2 separate regions of the Homo sapiens genome follow, and region 1 is linked to region 2. Evidence: fine-mapped expression QTL. A gene starts in region 2. The other region holds a variant in brackets. All regions are shown on one strand. Distances are from middle to middle. Region 1 overlaps SLC12A6 (solute carrier family 12 member 6). Region 2 holds the start of NOP10 (NOP10 ribonucleoprotein).

What was found. PIP is the estimated chance that this variant, and not a neighbour inherited with it, causes the effect. A credible set is the group of variants that fine-mapping cannot tell apart.
Region 1: its variant is the best candidate, but not a certain one, in a credible set for the expression of NOP10 in unexposed skin (GTEx, PIP 0.89).

Annotation. Positions count from the first base shown.
Region 1 is chr15:34,250,924-34,255,452 of GRCh38, reverse strand. SLC12A6 (solute carrier family 12 member 6) reads left to right here. Exons shown (of 26, transcript NM_001365088.1): 8 at 61-191; 9 at 864-1,105; 10 at 3,069-3,283; 11 at 4,396-4,529. Among named protein-coding and RNA genes, the nearest start is that of EMC4, 28 kb to the right of the region's middle. The variant AG/G (reference allele first, on the strand shown) is at 1,825.
Region 2 is chr15:34,341,114-34,345,342 of GRCh38, reverse strand. NOP10 (NOP10 ribonucleoprotein) reads left to right here and starts at 2,207. Exons shown (of 2, transcript NM_018648.4): 1 at 2,207-2,323; 2 at 3,235-3,624. The coding sequence starts at 2,270. The coding sequence ends at 3,375. It overlaps NUTM1 (NUT midline carcinoma family member 1), which reads right to left and starts at 2,028. Exons shown (of 8, transcript NM_001284292.2): 1 at 1,641-2,028. The coding sequence starts at 1,646. RefSeq lists silencers at 2,175-2,274, 2,355-2,464.

The sequences.
Region 1 (4,529 bases), 90 kb after region 2:
TCATATTCCTCTTGCTAATACACACTCTTTCTTCTATTCACCTTCTGTTTTGTCTTTTAGCTGGGGGCTCATACTTTATGATTTCCCGGGCACTGGGCCCAGAGTTTGGTGGGGCTGTTGGCCTCTGCTTTTATCTTGGTACCACATTTGCAGCAGCCATGTACATCCTTGGTGCCATTGAAATCTTTCTGGTAAGTAATGACTTCATTGTGGTCTATAATATAGAAGAAATATTGATTTAGGTTTATTCTTTGCTATGAAAGCTTCTGAGAGATCAGCTGTGGGAATAAATCAGGTGATTGACTGCCAACGTCAGTTGGCCTCTTACATGAATATGAGGTGGAAAGGTTGAAATTCTGTTTGCCTGCCTGTCCCTTCCTTTCTACCTGATTGCCACCACTCTGCCACCTCATCCAAGAGGTTCAAGTCCAATGGGGAAAAAGTAAAATAAAGTTTATCTTTTTTGATATCTTCATCCCTATGAAATAAAATGCTTCTCATATCTCTCTTCACTGAGACATATTGTTTACTATTTAAAGTAGTGATAGTAGAGTCAGGGTTAAAGATCATCATTATAATTACTTTATATAACCCTATGAATAAAATTAATAATTTGTTCCTTTCCTTTCTTTCCATTTGGAAATGTAGTTATTCAGAACAGCATGTAGACCAAAAAAAAAAAAAAAATCCATGACATCCCATTTCTGAAGGCATTTCAGATCCTATTAGAAACTAGGCTAATTCCCCAGTCATTTTCTCTCTCAGCTTTGCTTTCTTTTGTGAAAGTAAATGCAAACGAATACAGCCTTTTTACTTAATTATTTTGAAATAACCTAATTTTCTCCTTTATTTTTACCTAACAGGTCTATATCGTCCCCCGAGCTGCCATCTTTCACAGTGATGACGCACTCAAGGAATCAGCAGCCATGCTAAATAACATGCGTGTCTACGGCACAGCTTTCTTGGTCCTTATGGTATTAGTGGTATTTATCGGCGTACGCTATGTGAACAAGTTTGCCTCACTTTTCCTGGCCTGTGTCATTGTGTCCATCTTGGCCATCTATGCTGGAGCCATCAAGTCTTCTTTTGCTCCTCCACACTTCCCGTACGTGTCTGTCTCTCTGCCTAGCCATCCTTATTGGGTAGTAATTGAAAATATCTGGTGGTGTGATAATTTTAAGTCAGAATTTCATAGAGTCTCTCTGAGATTTTCCCTCTCAGATAAGCCCAGTTAGACTTCCTTCCTCATCTAGGCAGGAAGCCTACCAGCAAACTATGTCCCGTTCATCCTCTTTCTTATGTCCTAAGCATAGAACTAGTAGCTGTAACCATCATTTAGGTTCAGATATTAGATTTTTTTCTCCCTGATAATTGTACATAATCTTTTTTTATTATACACATTTTGAACTATTCATAAAGGGCTTTGCAGACAGTGTAGTTATTGCCAGCAACCTTTATAAGGCCCACCTTGGCCTCCCGACGTGCTGGGATTACAGGCGTGAGCCACTGCGCCCAGCCTAGGTCAGGGCTTTTATCCATTACCCAAATAATGTACTTTGTACCCATTAAGTACTCTCTCATCATTCACCACCTCCTTCAACTCCCTAGTGCGAATACTTTAAAGTATGTTTTTTGAAGTAGTAATGGATTTGTGCACATCTGTGACTCACAGGCTCACTTTTCCCTTTGACTAGTGGCATAGGGACTAGCTGGCACTCAGTGTTATTTGTAGTCTTGTTACAGAATTATCTTGAAGAGTCATCTGGATTATCTGAGGATCAAACTCATCGGTTCTATGTTGATTTAACCAGATTACAGAAAAAA[AG/G]ATTTTTCAAGACAAAAAGACAGTTCCAGTAGGTTTAATGACTTACCTCAAAGTTAATTAATGGCAGAGCAAGAAGATGAACTGTGATTTCCTGACTCCCCATTCAGTATTTCTTCTATGCTATGCTGCATGATGGCAGAAGTAGATTCCATCTTAAACTTTTAATCTGCTTATCTAGGGACTGTAATACAGCTGAAGGTCCTTTTTAGGGGCATAAAATTTCTAAAGGTGACATTCTGGTTATATCTCAATTTGGGAAATTCCATTTTGTCTCAGGTTCACCTTTGGGGCTTCTCCTCTTTTTTGATTAGTACACGGTCATAATGCATGGTATTTTCTTTGAGATATTCCAGCAAAACAAGACAAAAAATCTAGAATAATACATGAAACAAGACTGGGAAATGTTGAGAGTTGTTGAAGCTGAGTAATAGGTACATGGTTCATAATAATGTATTCAATCATTTTGCAAATTTTAGAAGTCCCTTTGTTGGACCTGAGAGGTATTTTAACTATGGATGTATTATTCCTTTGTTTATATTTGTGTCTCTGGGTTAAAGAAAAAAGTAAAACCAGCAGGTTAATATTTATGTTATCCTTACCGTCACTCCCACTGAGTCTAGGCTTAAATTCAAAAACAGTTTTCTCTTAGGCCATAGAGGGATCTGCCTTTTAATTCTGACCAAGCTGTTTTCCTTGCAACAGTAGCCAGAAGATTCAACCTTTAGCATAACATTTTCAAGGTGTTTGTTATGAATGTTAGGCTTTTCTAGGCCAAAAAAAGAGGAGTGCTTTTTACTTTATAAGAACAACAAAAGGACTTCAGTATTCTTTTAGACCTAACAATTTTAGCCAAAAATTTTGGAAGATGAGTCAGCATAATGTCTTCAGACAGTTCTTCAATTTGACTTCCTTCACTGCCACCACCTATGACCTTGGACAGATAACTGTATTTCCCTAACCTTCAATTAACTCCCTGTCTTCCTAAACTTCAGTGCCTCCATCCACAACATAGAAATTCTAATACATTGTGAGGTTGCTGTAAGTATTAAATTGGCAGAAAATGTAAGTCACCATTCACAGTGTTAAAATAAATTATAAATAAATAAACATTAGTTCCTTTCCCACCCATAACAGTAGAAGCTCTTAAAGATGGGGTTCTTGTTTCCTTTACTAACCTGTTTCCTTTTTTTTTAATGTACTTTTTTTCCTTACTTGATCTTTCTCCCTATTTCTTTTCACTTAGGGTCTGCATGCTGGGTAACCGCACCCTTTCATCAAGACACATTGACGTTTGCTCTAAGACCAAGGAAATTAACAACATGACAGTCCCATCAAAGTTATGGGGATTCTTCTGTAACTCGAGTCAATTTTTCAATGCCACCTGTGATGAATACTTTGTTCACAATAACGTCACTTCAATCCAGGGCATTCCTGGATTGGCTAGTGGTATAATTACAGGTAAGTTAGGGAGTTATTGGACAAGTTTTTTCCTATTTTCTGGGGAAAATAGGCCTTGTCATCTTAGATTCCTCTACTGTCCATAAAGATTCACTGCCATGGTGCTAATTCCCTTCTTAAGCACACCACACAGCTCTTAATTCACCATATTTCTGCTTTTCCATTAGTAAAGCTGTCCTTATTCAGTACTCCTTTACAGAGTGATGTCTGCTAAAATTCACCTCCATTTCAGAGCAGAGTTGAGCAAATCACTTTCTAACCTTACGGTAAAATATTCCGTGTATTCTTGTAAAATTGCCAATGTTCTTCCTGCACTGACAGAATAGACCTGTTTTAATGTCCACATCCACATGTATCTTCCTAACTTAGCTAAATTCCTGAAACATTCCTTAAGTGTCTTCTATTATAAATGTTTGGTCTATAAATTTCTTTGCACATAAGTAAGTTTACATTAAGGTGTTAGAAACAGCACTGATGACAAATAATAATGGGATTTGTGGGGCATTTAGTTTTAGTCTGTTTAACTTTTACTAATTTGCATTAGTAAAGTTAAACTATATTTGCATGTACCAAATCATTTTGTCAAATTATATTTAAATTAGATAAGAAAGAACATTATGTTTAGCTGGGCGCCGTGGGTTATGCCTGTAATCCTAGCACTTTGGGAGGCCTAGGTGGGAGGATCATGAGGTCAGGAGATCGAGACCATCCTGGCTAACATGGTGAAACCTCGTCTCTACTAAAAATATAAAAAATTAGCTGGGCGTGGTGGCAGGCGCCTGTAGTCCCAGCTACTCAGGATGCTGAGGCAGGAGAATGGCGTGAACCTGGGAGGCAGAGCTTGCAGTGAGCCAAGATTGTGCCACTGCACTCCAGCCTGGTGACAGAGTAAAACTCTGTCTCAAAAAACAAACAAACAAAAAAAAAACTATGTTTTTATTTATGTGTGTTTTATTGTGCAATGTGTGTGTATACATGTGCTCATGTAGAAGCAAACACACCTTTAGAAACTGTATAAATGAGGAGCCTGATTTTGAATGTTTGGGTAGAAAATTAATTATCTTTTTTTTTTCATACTGCTGCTGCTTAAATTCCCATTTTTCCCACTGCAGAGAATCTTTGGAGTAATTACCTACCCAAGGGAGAGATCATCGAAAAGCCTTCAGCCAAATCTTCTGATGTCTTAGGCAGCTTAAACCATGAATATGTTCTTGTTGACATCACCACCTCCTTCACGCTTCTGGTG
Region 2 (4,229 bases):
CACTAAATAAAAAAGCTGCCATGCAGTTTAAAATTTCAAGAGTAGAAAGTCCTTCTTTTTGTTAAATTATTTTGGTTTAAACTTTAAAAATAAAATTTATCTGCTAAGGTTCCTGGCGACTATTTCAGGCCAGTAACTCCCAGAGCATCCTCTACAGCCACAGCTTCATCCAAACGTGGATTTCCCCCAAAAGGCCTTCCCTGGGGTTCATGGCATCTTTCTTGCTTCCTCTGAGATATCTTTTCTCTTTTCTAAAGACCTGAAGGCTAAAATCATCATTTTCCTTTCTAACAAAATTAACTACTTAGATTTAAATTTTTTTTTTTAAACAGAGTCTCGCTCTGTCACCCAGGCTGTAGTGCAGTGGCGTGATCTCTGCTCACTGCAAGCTCCGCCTTCCGGGTTCACGCCATTGTCCTGCCTCACCCTCCTGAGTAGCTGGGACTACAGGCACCCACCACCATGCCCGGCTAATTTTTTGTATTTTTAGTAGAGACGGGGTTTCACTGTGTTAGCCAGGATAGTCTCGATCTCCTGACCTCATGATCCGCCCGCCTCAGCCTCCCAAAGTGCTGGGATTACTAGGCGTGAGCCACCGTGCCCGGCCTTTAAAAAATTTTTAACAGGTAATAAATACATTAGCAAGGTTCAAAAATCAAACTGCGTAATAAAATACATAGCAATAAGTCTGCCTCCCAACCCTTACCCCTTTCTCCTGCAACTAAGTTCTCTATCCCAGAGGAAACCAGTATCATCTGTTTCTTGTGAATACTTGCAGAGATTTTTTATGCAACTACAAGTAAATACAAACCATATTCTTTTTTTTTTTTTTTTTTTTTTGAGACAGGATCTCGCTCTGTCGCCCAGGCTGGAGTGCAGTGGCGTGATCTTGGCTCACTGCAACCTCCGCCTCCTGGGTTCAAGTGATTCTCCTGCCTCAGCCTCCCGAGTAGCTGGGACTACAGGTGCCCGCCACCACGCCCCGCTAATTTTTGTATTTTTGGGGGTTTCACCATATTGGCCAGGCTGGTCTCGAACTCCTGACCTTGTGATCCACCCGTCTCAGCCTCCCAAAGTGCTGGGATTACAGGCGTGAGCCACCGCGCCCAGCCACAAACCATATTTTTTTTTCTTTAAGACGGACCCAGGCTGGAGTGCAGTGGTGCTATCTCAGCTCGCTGCAACCTCTGCCTCCCCGGCTCAAATGATTCTCCTGCCTCAGCCTCTGAAGTAGCTGGGACTACAGGCGCCCACCACCACGCCCGGCTAATTTTTCTGTATTTTTAGTAGAGACGGGGTTTCGCCAGATTGGCCAGGCTGGTCTCGAACCCTTGACCTGTGATCTGCCTGCCTCAGCCTCCCAGTGTTGGGATTACAGGCGTGAGCCACCGCGCCCCGCCAAACCATATTCTTAAAAAAAAAAAAAAAAAAGTGCAGGTTTTTCTGGTTACACAGTTAATATATATTCCAATGCTTTTGTCATTGTAAATAATGGCGTAACGATGATCTTTGTAATGATATTTTGGTTCTCATTTTCATTTCTTTAAACGAGAGTCTTATAAGGAGAACTTCTATATTCTTTTAAAAATTGTAAAAACTCCTAGAAGGTGCACTTTATTACGTTATTATTAGCTACTCACCACCATAAGAAAGAGCGCTGAATTTGCGGTAGGGACCTAACTTTAAATCTTGGTTCGACCGCTGAAACATGCTTCACCAGTTTCATAAAATAACTTTACGCTCTTTCGCTTTACGGAATATTGATACTCAACATGCATTCTTTACCGCCAACGCTTTGAAATGGAGCAGGGGAACTGGATGTAAAAGAGGGGAGGGAAGAAAACCTCTTCTTTCTTCCCTAGGGTAAAGGGGCTCTGAATCCTGGAGCCCTTGTTTCTTCAGGCATTGAAAACTCACTGCTCCTGAAATGGGTGTGTATCTTGAGACAAAGACAGGCTTCTATACGTCAATATTCTATCCACATCCATCCCTACCCCCCTCTAACGCCGTGTACCTAGCACACAGTAGGGACACTCCACGTGTTTTAGCCTGCAAAGTTGCAAGTAGGGCCCCAAGCCAAGCCCTGCTCTCGTGCGCCCCCTTCTGGCTAGCTGAAAACAAGGCAAAAATTGACTACATTTTCCGGAGTGCCAGGAGAGAGAGACTTCCGGTTATGCAGGAAGGAAATTGACGAACACGTGACGCGGTCGGGCGGACCACTGCAGACTGAGCGGTGGACCGAATTGGGACCGCTGGCTTATAAGCGATCATGTTTCTCCAGTATTACCTCAACGAGCAGGGAGATCGAGTCTATACGCTGAAGGTGAGGAGAGAAAACAGGGTGTAAATAGGCATGGCGAGAAATGTAGATGGGAGGAGTGGGTGAGGTCATACGTGGAGTTACCTAGCTGGGTGCGGGGAACCAGAAAGTCCAGAACCGAGGTGGGGAAGAACCGGGACCGCGCGACTCATTTTTTAATTAAAAGAAAAAATTCTGGCGGGGCGCAGTGGCTCCCGCCTGTAATCCTAGCACTTTGGGAGGCCGAGGCGGGTGGATTGCCTTAGCTCAGGAGTTCGCGACCATTCTGGGCAACACTGTGAAACTCCGTTTCTACTAAAATACAAAAAATTAGCCGGGCATGGCGGTGTGCGCCTGTTATCCCAGCTACTCGGGAGGCTGAGACAGGAGAATCGCTTAAACCCGGGAGGCAGAGGTTGCAGTGAGCCGGGATAGCGCCATTGCACTCACTTTTCCTTTTTTTTTTTTTTTTTTTTTTTAAAGACAGGGACTCGCTTTGTTGCCTAGGCTGTAGTGCGGTGGTGCGGTCTCGGCTCACTGCAACCTCCGCCTCCTGGGCTCAAACAATCCTTCTGCCTCAGCCTCCCGAGTAGTTGGGACTACAGGCGTGCGCCACCATACCCGGCTAATTTTTGGTTTTGGGGTTTTTTGTTTGGTTGGTTGGTTTTGTTTGTTTGTTTGTTGTAGAGACGAGGTTTCGCCATATTGCCCAGGCTGGTCTCAAACCATCCTCCCGCCTCGACCTCCCAAAGTGCCAGGATTACAGGCGTGAGCCACCGCGCTCGGCCTTTTTAAATTTTATATTTCTCTATTTATTTGTACAACTTTTTGAGTTGACCATTGCATCTTCTATTTTCATGTTTGCCCTTTTTCGCGCTGGCCCCACCCCATTTCATCACTCCTGTACTGACATACATTCTGTGTTCCTGGAGCAGAAATTTGACCCGATGGGACAACAGACCTGCTCAGCCCATCCTGCTCGGTTCTCCCCAGATGACAAATACTCTCGACACCGAATCACCATCAAGAAACGCTTCAAGGTGCTCATGACCCAGCAACCGCGCCCTGTCCTCTGAGGGTCCCTTAAACTGATGTCTTTTCTGCCACCTGTTACCCCTCGGAGACTCCGTAACCAAACTCTTCGGACTGTGAGCCCTGATGCCTTTTTGCCAGCCATACTCTTTGGCATCCAGTCTCTCGTGGCGATTGATTATGCTTGTGTGAGGCAATCATGGTGGCATCACCCATAAAGGGAACACATTTGACTTTTTTTTCTCATATTTTAAATTACTACAAGATTATTAAAGATAAAATGATTTGAAAAACTCTTATTTTGTGAGTTGTTGGAGGAAAGGATTGGCAGTATTTTTTTAAAGGGAGGGAGATGATAAAGGAGAGTACCCCAGAGAGTTGCAACAATACCACTTGGAAGAAAAACTTCAGTCCTGCTGTTGCAAGAGTGGTCATGTGCTGTTCATGATAGGAGGGTATTGGGGAAGAAAGATTAAGACTTTCACAGCTGTCAGCATTCACTGAAAAATACCTCTGTTGTCACTTAACGTAATTTCTTGTCCCTTGAAATAAGATTTTGATTAAAAATGGAAGAGTACTTGTAAAAGTAATAGGCATATTACAGACAGAGGTCAGTGAATTGAAAGTCAGAAGACCAGTATTTGCTTTTTGTATAACTTTGAGAAAGTTACTTAACCTGTTTAGTCTGATTTTTCTCCTGATTAACTTATCTTTGAACTCAAATTGATTTAGTGGTGGGCCTTTCTTTTTTTTTCTTTTGAGACAGAGTCTAGATCTGTTGTCCAGGCTGGAGTGCAGGGGTGCAGCCTTGGCTGACTACAACCTCCGTCTCCCAGGTTCAAGCAATTCTCCTGCCTCAGCTTCCCAAGTAACTGGGATTACAGGTGCACGCCACCAC